Linked DNA regions of Homo sapiens: all the other regions are reported to be linked to region 3. Evidence: microRNA targets listed by miRTarBase, many of them from high-throughput screens and not tested one by one. Region 3 holds a microRNA gene; each other region holds the end of a gene's coding sequence.

The links. The annotated mature microRNA hsa-miR-766-3p reads ACUCCAGCCCCACAGCCUCAGC and lies in region 3 at 1,110-1,131, opposite strand. An mRNA with a match to its seed (bases 2 to 7 or 8) in the 3' UTR can be bound and repressed. Matches are read on the target gene's strand: a 7mer-m8 pairs with bases 2 to 8, a 7mer-A1 pairs with bases 2 to 7 and ends in A, and an 8mer does both.
Region 1: the mRNA of HRNR is a reported target of hsa-miR-766-3p. The part of its 3' UTR that is shown has no 7-base or 8-base seed match.
Region 2: miRTarBase lists GPR75 as a target of hsa-miR-766-3p. The part of its 3' UTR that is shown has no 7-base or 8-base seed match.

The regions. Positions count from the first base shown.
Region 1 is chr1:152,210,172-152,213,334 of GRCh38, forward strand. HRNR (hornerin) reads right to left here. Exons shown (of 3, transcript NM_001009931.3): 3 at 1,905-3,163. The coding sequence ends at 2,905. All of the region lies in intron 1 of CCDST (cervical cancer associated DHX9 suppressive transcript), which reads left to right. Among named protein-coding and RNA genes, the nearest start is that of HRNR, 12 kb to the right of the region's middle.
Region 2 is chr2:53,850,427-53,853,589 of GRCh38, reverse strand. GPR75 (G protein-coupled receptor 75) reads left to right here. Exons shown (of 2, transcript NM_006794.4): 2 at 1-678. The coding sequence ends at 456. All of the region lies in intron 1 of GPR75-ASB3 (GPR75-ASB3 readthrough), which reads left to right. Among named protein-coding and RNA genes, the nearest start is that of MIR3682, 2.8 kb to the right of the region's middle.
Region 3 is chrX:119,645,654-119,648,816 of GRCh38, forward strand. It overlaps MIR766 (microRNA 766), which reads right to left and starts at 1,195; the gene lies at 1,085-1,195. All of the region lies in intron 5 of SEPTIN6 (septin 6), which reads right to left. RefSeq lists an enhancer at 2,249-2,428.

The sequences.
Region 1 (3,163 bases), not on the chromosome of region 3:
TTTGTAATATATTTTGATATCTGATGAGATGAAACTCCTCCCCTTCTGTATCTTGGTGGCTCACATAATGCCAGCACTTTGGGAGGCCGAGGCGGGCAGATCACCTGAGGTCAGGAGTTCGAGACCAGCCTGGCCAACATGGTGAAACCCTGCCTACTAAAAATACAAACATTAGCTGGATGTGGTGCTGCCTGCCTGTAATCCCAGGAGACTGAGGCAGGGGAATCACTTGCACCCACGAGATGGAGGTTGCAGTGAGCCGATATTGTGCCACTGTACTCCAGCCTGGGCAACAGAGTGAGACTGTCTCAAAACAAAAAACAAAAAACAAAAAACAAAAAAAATTCGTGTGTCAAGTTGCACAGAAAGCCTTTAAACAATCAACTTTATTGAGATATAATTTCCACATAATATGTACGATTATGTAAGTTTTGACAAAAGTATATATATATGTAACTACCATTATAATCTACATATAGATTTATTCCATCACCCTAGAGTGTTCCTTTGTGACTCTTCCAGACAGTTCACAAGTTCTACTCCCAGCCCTAGTCAACCACTGATCTACTTTCTATTTTTATAGATTAGGTTTGTTTTAGTAAGTTTCATATAGATGGAATCATAAATATGTACTCTTTTGTGGATGGCTTCTTTTGATCAACGTGTTTTTGAGATTCATCTGTGTTACATGTATCAGTAGTTTATTCTTTTTTTCCTTGCTAAATAGAATTCCATTGTATAGCCATACCACAATTTGTTTATCCAGTCATCTGTTCGTGGACATTTGGATTGTTTCAAGTTTGGGGCTATTATTAAAGCTGCTATAAACATTCATGTAAAAATCTTCAATGTAGACATACGTTGTCATTTCGCTTGGGAGTGGAATTGCTAGGCCCTATAGTAAAGTACACAATCGTGTTGCTTAACAATGGGGGATATGTTGTGAAAAATGCACCCTTAGGCAAACATCAGAGAGTGTACTTACACAAATATAGATGGTATAGCCAATAAACAACTAGGCTATATGGTATAGATTATTGCTCCTAGGCTACAAACCTATACAGCATGTTACTGTACTGAGTACTGTAGGCAACTAACACAATGGTAAGTGTGCATCTAAATGTATCTAAACATAAAGAAGGTACAGTAAAAATATGGCATAAAAGATAAAAAAGGTACACTTGTATAGGGCACTTACCATGAATAGAGCATGTAGGACTAGAAGTTGCTGTAGGTGTCAGTCAGTGAGTGGTGAGTGAATGGGAAGGCCTAGGACATTACTGTATACTACTGTAGAGTGTGTAAACACTATACACTTGAATTACACTAAATTTATAAAAGAATTTCTTCCTCCAGTAAAAATTAACTTTAGCTTACTGTAAATTTTTAGGTTTATAGACTTTTACATTTTTAAACTTTTTGACTCTCTTAATTAACACCTAGCTTAAAGCACGAACACATTGTATAGCTGAACACAAATATTTTTTTCTTTACATCATTATTCTGTAGGCTTTTTTCTGTTTTAAATTTTTTTAAAAAACTTTTTTTGTTAAAAATTAAAACTAACACTAAAAAGTTTTTGTTAAACCAAGACAAATATCGCCTTCTACCTCCATATGTTGTCTCCCTCTAAGGGCTTCAGGGACAATAAAATGTATGGAGCTGACAGCTCCACATTATTGTGTGTGATTTTGGTGTCATATCAAAAAAATCATTGCCAATACCAGTGTGATGGAATTTTGATCATTTTAAAATGAAGTAGTTTGTCTTATTGAGTTTTAAGAATGCTTTATCTATTCTTCATTGTGAAAAATAGAATATTGGGAAATCGCTGTTTGGTTTGGTTTCTAGGATGACCATCTGTATGTAAGAAGTGAAATGAAGCACAGATGAGAAAAGTCTTAGTATTTAATCAACATTTATTTATTGTCAATTTTAATACAATCCGGTTGTTTGAATCCAAAGACTTGAAACAAATGTGTTACAGTCAAATTAAGGAACTATGTAGCAGTGACAGATACTCTTCCTTTTCATCTGGGCATGGATGATATTTTTTCAGGTGGAAACGTTATTGAACTACAGTAGTAGGTGGAAAGCATTGTATTTCCATGGAATAACTCCTCAATATATTTCCCAATATTGAGCAGCCTCTTAGAAATAGGGAGCAAGATCTTTCTGCTGAAAACAAGCTAAAGCCCACATTTGAATGTTTTTTTTTTTCCTGAAATGATAAATCCCTATTCTTTATGAAATAATGCTCTTGCTCACTGGCTTGGGAAAAGACCCTGATGCTACTTTTTTATGCCACTAATTAACTTACTGATTAAATATATACCCAAGAAAAAGGACTTGATGGTTTTGATAAGTAAAGACACTACCGCTGCTGCATCTTTGCTTTCAGAGCCTTCACCTTCTGCCACAATACCAAAAATTGGGACACACCAAACTTGGGGCACACTAAAAATTAGGGTACACTAATTGCTGTAAAACAAAGCTTTGTATCTAGGACTGGTAATGCATTTGTAATATTTTGCTTCTAAGAAATGTAAGGTTAGCTTTGGCACCATCTATAAATGAATGATGAGCTCTCAAAAAGACAACTCCAACTAAACCCAAAGCTCTTTAAAAGCTTTTCATTATTCCTCAAAGTTTAACCCTCATTCTAACAAGTTATTCCACTCAGTATTTTCTAACAAAGTAGCACAAATGCCTAACAGTCTTTGGAAGGAACCCCATAACAAGATATATGCTACAGTTTTAGGCTCTAAAGAAAGAGACAGAAATGCATTGATTCACTTTTAGAACGAATTTCATGATGGATTGCTTGTCTTTCATGATGAATTCATAGATGACTTTCCTATTTCTTAAATTGCTACTTGAGTAAATTGCATTTATGTTTATTATTCACTGATAAAAGTAGCACCTCTGCTCTTGGACATATTCATAGGGTGAAGTGCTACTAGGAAAACTGAGAAAATATGAGCCAGAACTTCCCCCATCATGGTTACTTCCTCCTTTGCAATAAGAATACCCATCTTGCCCTGAGCCACTTCCATGCTGACTATAACCAGAGGACTGTCCTGAGCCAGACCCATGTTGGCCGTAGCTGGAAGACTGCCCTGAACCAGACCCGTGTCGGCCGTGGCTAAGAGACTGGCCAGAT
Region 2 (3,163 bases), not on the chromosome of region 3:
TGCCTCCAATACATAGGCCTGGGTTTTTTCTGCTGCAAACAAAAGACTCGACTTCGAGCCATGGGAAAAGGGAACCTCGAAGTCAACAGAAACAAATCCTCCCATCATGAAACAAACTCTGCCTACATGTTATCTCCAAAGCCACAGAAGAAATTTGTGGACCAGGCTTGTGGCCCAAGTCATTCAAAAGAAAGTATGGTGAGTCCCAAGATCTCTGCTGGACATCAACACTGTGGTCAGAGCAGCTCGACCCCCATCAACACTCGGATTGAACCTTACTACAGCATCTATAACAGCAGCCCTTCCCAGGAGGAGAGCAGCCCATGTAACTTACAGCCAGTAAACTCTTTTGGATTTGCCAATTCATATATTGCCATGCATTATCACACCACTAATGACTTAGTGCAGGAATATGACAGCACTTCAGCCAAGCAGATTCCAGTCCCCTCCGTTTAAAGTCATGGAGGCTATAGGATCTTATGTAAACAGTTTTTGTTTCTGATAGTAATGGACTTTATTCTAACTTGAGATCAGTGGCGGATCAAAACCTACAAGATTCAACTGAAAAGTTGGCAGTTATGGTTTTCTTTCATCTGATGTGTCAGTATCTGTTGATTTGCTTTGTAGTTTGTTGACATCTTAAGATTTGATGTGAAAGTTTTAGATTTTTTACCCTGCTCTTTGCCTCAGTCTTTTGTACCGAGCCTTTAAATAGATGCCAGGAATGAAGCTACTGTGTTAAAGTAGAAAGTCAACCGATTATCATGATTTGAGTCAGTGTTATGTGACTTCAAAATAAGGTATTGACTGGATTTTTTTTAAAGAATGTGAAAATATGATTTTTGCTGAGGTGTTATTTTTATTAATTGAATTGTAAATTTTGATTTTTTGAAGTGTTGAAATCGGGAACACTACACCTTGTTGGTAGCAGGTTGATTTGAATAAATAATATATTGTTAGCTGGGTGCAGTGGCATGCACCTGTAGTCCTAGCTACTTGGGAGGCTGAGGCAGGAGGATCACTTGAGCCCGGGATTATGAGTCCAGCCTGGGCAACACAGCAAGACCCTGTCTCTAAAGGAAATGTATATATTCTTTTTTTTTTTTTTTTTTTTTTTTTTTTTTTGAGACGGAGTTTCACTCTTGTTGCCCAGGCTGGAGTGCAATGGCATGACCTCGGCTCACCGCAACCTCCACCTCCCGGGTTCAAGTGATTCTCCTGTCTCAGCCTCCCAAGTAGCTGGGATTACAGGCGCATGCCACCATGCCCGGCTAATTTTTGTATTTTTATTAGAGACAGGGTTTCTCTGTGTTGGTCAGGCTGGTCTTCAACTCCTGACCTTAGGTGATCCGCCTGCCTCGGCCTCCCAAAGTGCTGGGATTACAGGCATGAGCCACTGTGCTTAGCCAGAAATATATATATTCTTAAGGCAGAAAAGGTGATAACTCTGTCTTTACCAAAAACACTCACACAGGTATTAGGTACTTTTCTTTCATAGGACAGTCAACTAAGAATATAGTATTATGATTATTGCCATTTCTTATTATAGACATGTTTTATGTCAGTTGAGTAGGTTTACAATTCTTTTGAAAAGAAATATATTTGGGCCGGGCATGGTGGCTCACACCTGTAATCCCAGCACTTTGGGAGGCTGAGGCGGGTGGATCACCTGAGGGTCAGGAGTTCGAGACCAGCCTGGCCAACATGATGAAACCCCGTCTCTACTAAAAACACAAAAATTAGCAAGGCATGGTGGCAAGCACCTGTAATCCCAGCTACTCGGGAGGTTGAGGCAAGAGAATCGCTTGAACCTGGGAGACAGGTTGCAGTGAGCTGAGATCGTGCCATTGCACTCCAGCCTGGGTGACAAGAGCGAGATGTCATCTCAAAAAAATGAAAAAAAGAGAAAGAAAGAAAGAAAAGAAATATATTTTTGCTTGTTAAAAGTGAATTATTTATTTATTTATTTTTTTCCTGAGAGGGAGTCTTGCTCTGTTGCCCAGGCTGGAGTGCAGTGGCATGATCTCTGCTCACTGCAACCTGCGCCTCCCGGGCTCAAGTGATTCTCCTGCCTCAGCCTCCTGAGTAGCTGGGATTACAGGCGTGTGCCACCATGCCCAGCTCATTTTTGTATTTTTTAGTAGAGACAGGTCTTGAACTTGTCTTGAACTCCTGACCTCAGGTGATCTGCCTGCCTCGGCCTCCCGAAGTGCTGGGATTACAGGCATGAGCCACCCCAACTGGCCCAAAAGTGAATTGTTTCTGAATGATCTTATTCAAGAAGCCTAGTGAAGAGGACTGCATCTATGGTAGAGGTGCACTGTTCCCAGGAGAGAAGGCACTGCGGTAATCATCTCGGTGTTCTGTGGAAAACAGTGTGGACTCCTGTCATGCATTGGGCAATATTTATTATTGCTTAACAAGGTTTACAGATAAGACTGGGAATGTTTTGATTTATGTTTTCCTTCTGTGTGAGAAGAGTTTACTAACCACCTGACAGTATTCAAGTAACTATTTAGAAATGACTTCTTTTTTGTCTTTATTTATTATTATGGTAGAAAAATTCTCAAGATAATCTATTTTCAAACTAATCATTTTATTTCTCTCCCATTAATCTTAAAGTGGAAATGGGCAGAAAGAAAAAATAGATTTAAGTATTTCTATACCTGAAACTAATTTTACTATATGCTCTGAGATTCCTAGCATAACAACTGTGAACTCATATTTTATTGTAAAAATATTTTCAGTATACAGTTAGTATTTGAACTCACTAGGTTTTTAAATGTTAGACACACAAGATGAGCATCAATATACAACACCTATCTTTATAAATTGTTATATTCAAGAGTTATTATTGCAGATTGGAAGGTACTTTGTTCCTTTGCGTAAAAGTCTTTTTTTTTTTTTGTAGAAACAGAGTCTTACTCTGTCACCCAGGCTAAAGTGCAGTGGCATGATCTCAGATCGCTGCAACCTCCGCTTCCCGGGTTCAAGCGATTGTCTTGCCTCAGCCTCCAGAGTAGCTGGGATTACAGGTGCCCGCCACCACTCCTGGCTAATTTTTGTATTTTTGGTAGAGACAGGGTTTCACCATGATAGCCAGGCTGGTCTTGAATTCCTGGCCTCAAGTAATCCACCCACCTCGGCCTCCCAAAGTGCTAGG
Region 3 (3,163 bases):
CCCAAGTAGCTGGGATTACAGGTATGAGCCACTGCGCCTGGTAATTTTTTGTATTTTTAGTAGAGACGGGGTTTCACCATGTTGGCCAGGATGGTCTCGATCTCTTGACCTTGTGATTCGCCCACCTTGGCCTCCCAAAGTGCTGGGATTACACGTGTGAGCCACTGCACCCAGCCCCGACCTCTTAATACTATCATACTGGCCACACCTGAATTTTGGAGGGGACACAATCAAACCATAGCACCACCTTTACTGACTTGTGTCTAACTTAAATTCTTCTTGTACATTGTAAAGTACTTAATAATCCAATTGGCGTGAGTTACTTTATTCTTATTTCACCACATCCATTATACTTGGGAGGCTAGGTGACTGCTTAGCCCAGTGAAATACACACTGTCAGAACTCTTTATTCCTCATCTAATGATAATATTCTGATTGGGCTTGGTTTCCTCCCAGGGTGGACAGTGTTTCCCAGTTATGTTAGTCCCCATTTCAGGCCCCTGCTGGTGACTGAACAAGACCATTGGCTGATTTGCTCTCAAGTCAACCACTGGTGATTCCTGTAAAAGTACATGGCAACAATGGAAATACCATTGCTGTCTCAGAGGAAGGGATGGACTTGTGCCTGTGGGTCTTCCTATGACCCTACTGTTCAGCCATGTGTTCTCACTGGGCCCAAATGTCAATTGCCTTTGTGGGAACCAAACCCCAGACCTCACAAATGGACAATTAATGGAGCTCAGTCAATTAAGTAACTGGGCCTTTTTGCTGGTCCTGGCCATGCTTTCAGCCATTCAAAGAACATCATTAAATTTAAAATAACATAGCAATTCTTAGTATTAAAGTCTACAACCTTGAGAGATATCAGAGCATGGGTTGAAAATAGCATGCAACAAGACCTCGCTCTCCCTTCTCTTCCCCCTCAATCTACAATAAGGTTTTCTGGAGCCACCCATAATTCAAGGTGGTGGCAGGGACCTCATTACTCTCATTTCCTGCCACAAAAATCCCCCATGGTGAGAGACAGGACATTGTACAGTCTTCTCCACTCAGGCAACAGATTTCTTCCGCTTCTTCCAATCCAGCTCCTATGACAATTGGCTGGGGTGGCTGAGGCTGTGGGGCTGGAGTCAAATCCAAAATGAAAGACCAGCACCAATTCCTCCTACCACCCAAGCCCAGGTCCTGAGGATGCAGCTTCATACACCACGGCTTGTGTGAAGACTCTGGGGACTTTTGACATAGTTGTTCGGTGGCAGGCAGGCTAAGCAATCCTCTGTGTATATTTGATAGCACCCTCTTTCCCATCACAGCGCATGTAACACAAAACACTCACATGCAAGCTCCTCTCACAGGCATGCCAATTCAGGCACACTAGCTGTGAGGCCACTCCTCTCTTTCCCACTCAAAAAAAACCCATAGTGGATTAGCCGGGCATGGTGGTGCATGCCTGTGGTCCCAGCTACTCGGGAGGCTGAGGCAGGAGGATTAGTTGAACCCAGGAGGTGGAGGCTACAGTGAGCTGAAATTGATTGCATCACTGTACTCCAGCCTGGGCGACAGAGTGAGAGCCTGTCTCAAAAAAAAAACAAAGCACAGTAGGATGCAAGGGAGTAAGTGGTGAGTGATTTATGATAGGGATAATCCTGAATCCACTGGAATTCCCTGCTCCTCTCCTCTCCTCCCCTCCCCTCCCTTCCTCCATTCCTTCCTTCCTTCCTTCCACTGGAATTCCCTCCCTCCCTCCTCCCTTCCTTCCTTCCTTTTTATTTCTTTCTCTCTTTCTCTCTTTATTTACTTTCTTTTTCTTTCCTTTCCTTTCTCTCTCTCTTTTTTTTTTTTTGTGAGACAGGGTGTTGCTCTGTCACCCAGCCTGCAGTAGTGCAGTGGCTCGATCAGGGTTCACCGCAGCCTCAACTTCCCAGGCTCAAGTAATCTTCCCACTTTAGGCCACCCACCGACCAAGTAGCTGAGACTACAGGTGTGCGCCACAGCACCAGTTAATTTTTTCTTTTTTGAGATGGAGTTTTGCTCTGGTTGCCCAGGCTGGAGTGCAAAGGCGAGATCTCAGCTCACTGCAACCTCTGCCTCCTGGGTTCAAGCGATTCTCCTGCCTCAGCCTCCTGAGTAGCTGGGATTACAGGCATGCGCCACCATGCCTGGCTAATTTTGTCTTTTTACTAGAGACGGGGTTTCTCCATGTTGGTCAGGCTGGTCTCGAACTCTTGATCTGAGGTGATCCACCTGCCTTGGCCCCCGAAAGTGTTGGAATTACAGGCGTTAGCCACCGCGCCCGGCCACTAGTTAATTTTTTTTAAATTTCAGTAGAGATGAGGTCTCACTATGTTGTTCAGCCTCGAATTTTGTTTCTCAAAGTGAAACACAATTATGAGTAATAAAGGACCCAGAATCCCTTCACAGCCATAACAGCATGCTTGACAACTGCTGCTGCCTAGCTTGGGGGTTTCCAGCCTTGAGGTTGAGCCTACCCTAGGCTTAGCAGGAGGCCAGAGCTGAGCTGAGAACAGAGCCCAGGATGATTATCACTCCTAATCCATGAGGTACCAAGATGTGGTTCTGTGTGACACCTTGAGATGGCTGAGTACTCTCAGTCCCTATTTATTCTTAGCAAAGCAAACCACAAGCCTGCAAGCTGCTTGATGACTTAGGGCATCAGTGTTCAGAAGGTCTCTATGGGGACTGATGTCCTGAGGTGACTAGACGCTTCCAGACATCAGTGCCCGTGGCACCCAGATGACACTTCTCGCGAGGCTCCCGTTTTTCTGCAGACTAGGCTGTCTCTTCATAACAGAGCCTAGTTTCCATCAAAATGCCCTGACTTCTCGAGAGGACAAGTGCTAATCTTTTTTATTTTTTCCATGCCCACGGCCGGTCAGAGAAGACCTATCTCTACCTACCATGCTCCAGATAGCCTTACCCTTGAGCCAGATTTGTCTAAGATGGTGATGGTGATAACAAACACATCTCGGGTGTACTGATGGACAGGAAGTCAGGAGAGACAATGACTTGCTGCCCTGCTATGCTAATTTGTTGGCCAATTCATAGGAGGTGGCAGCTGAAGTTGTAATGATAACTTAGAGGGCAGTGGCAGCAGGAAAGTTTTCTAAAAATGGCTTTTATTACAAGGCTTTCCTGAGTTTGG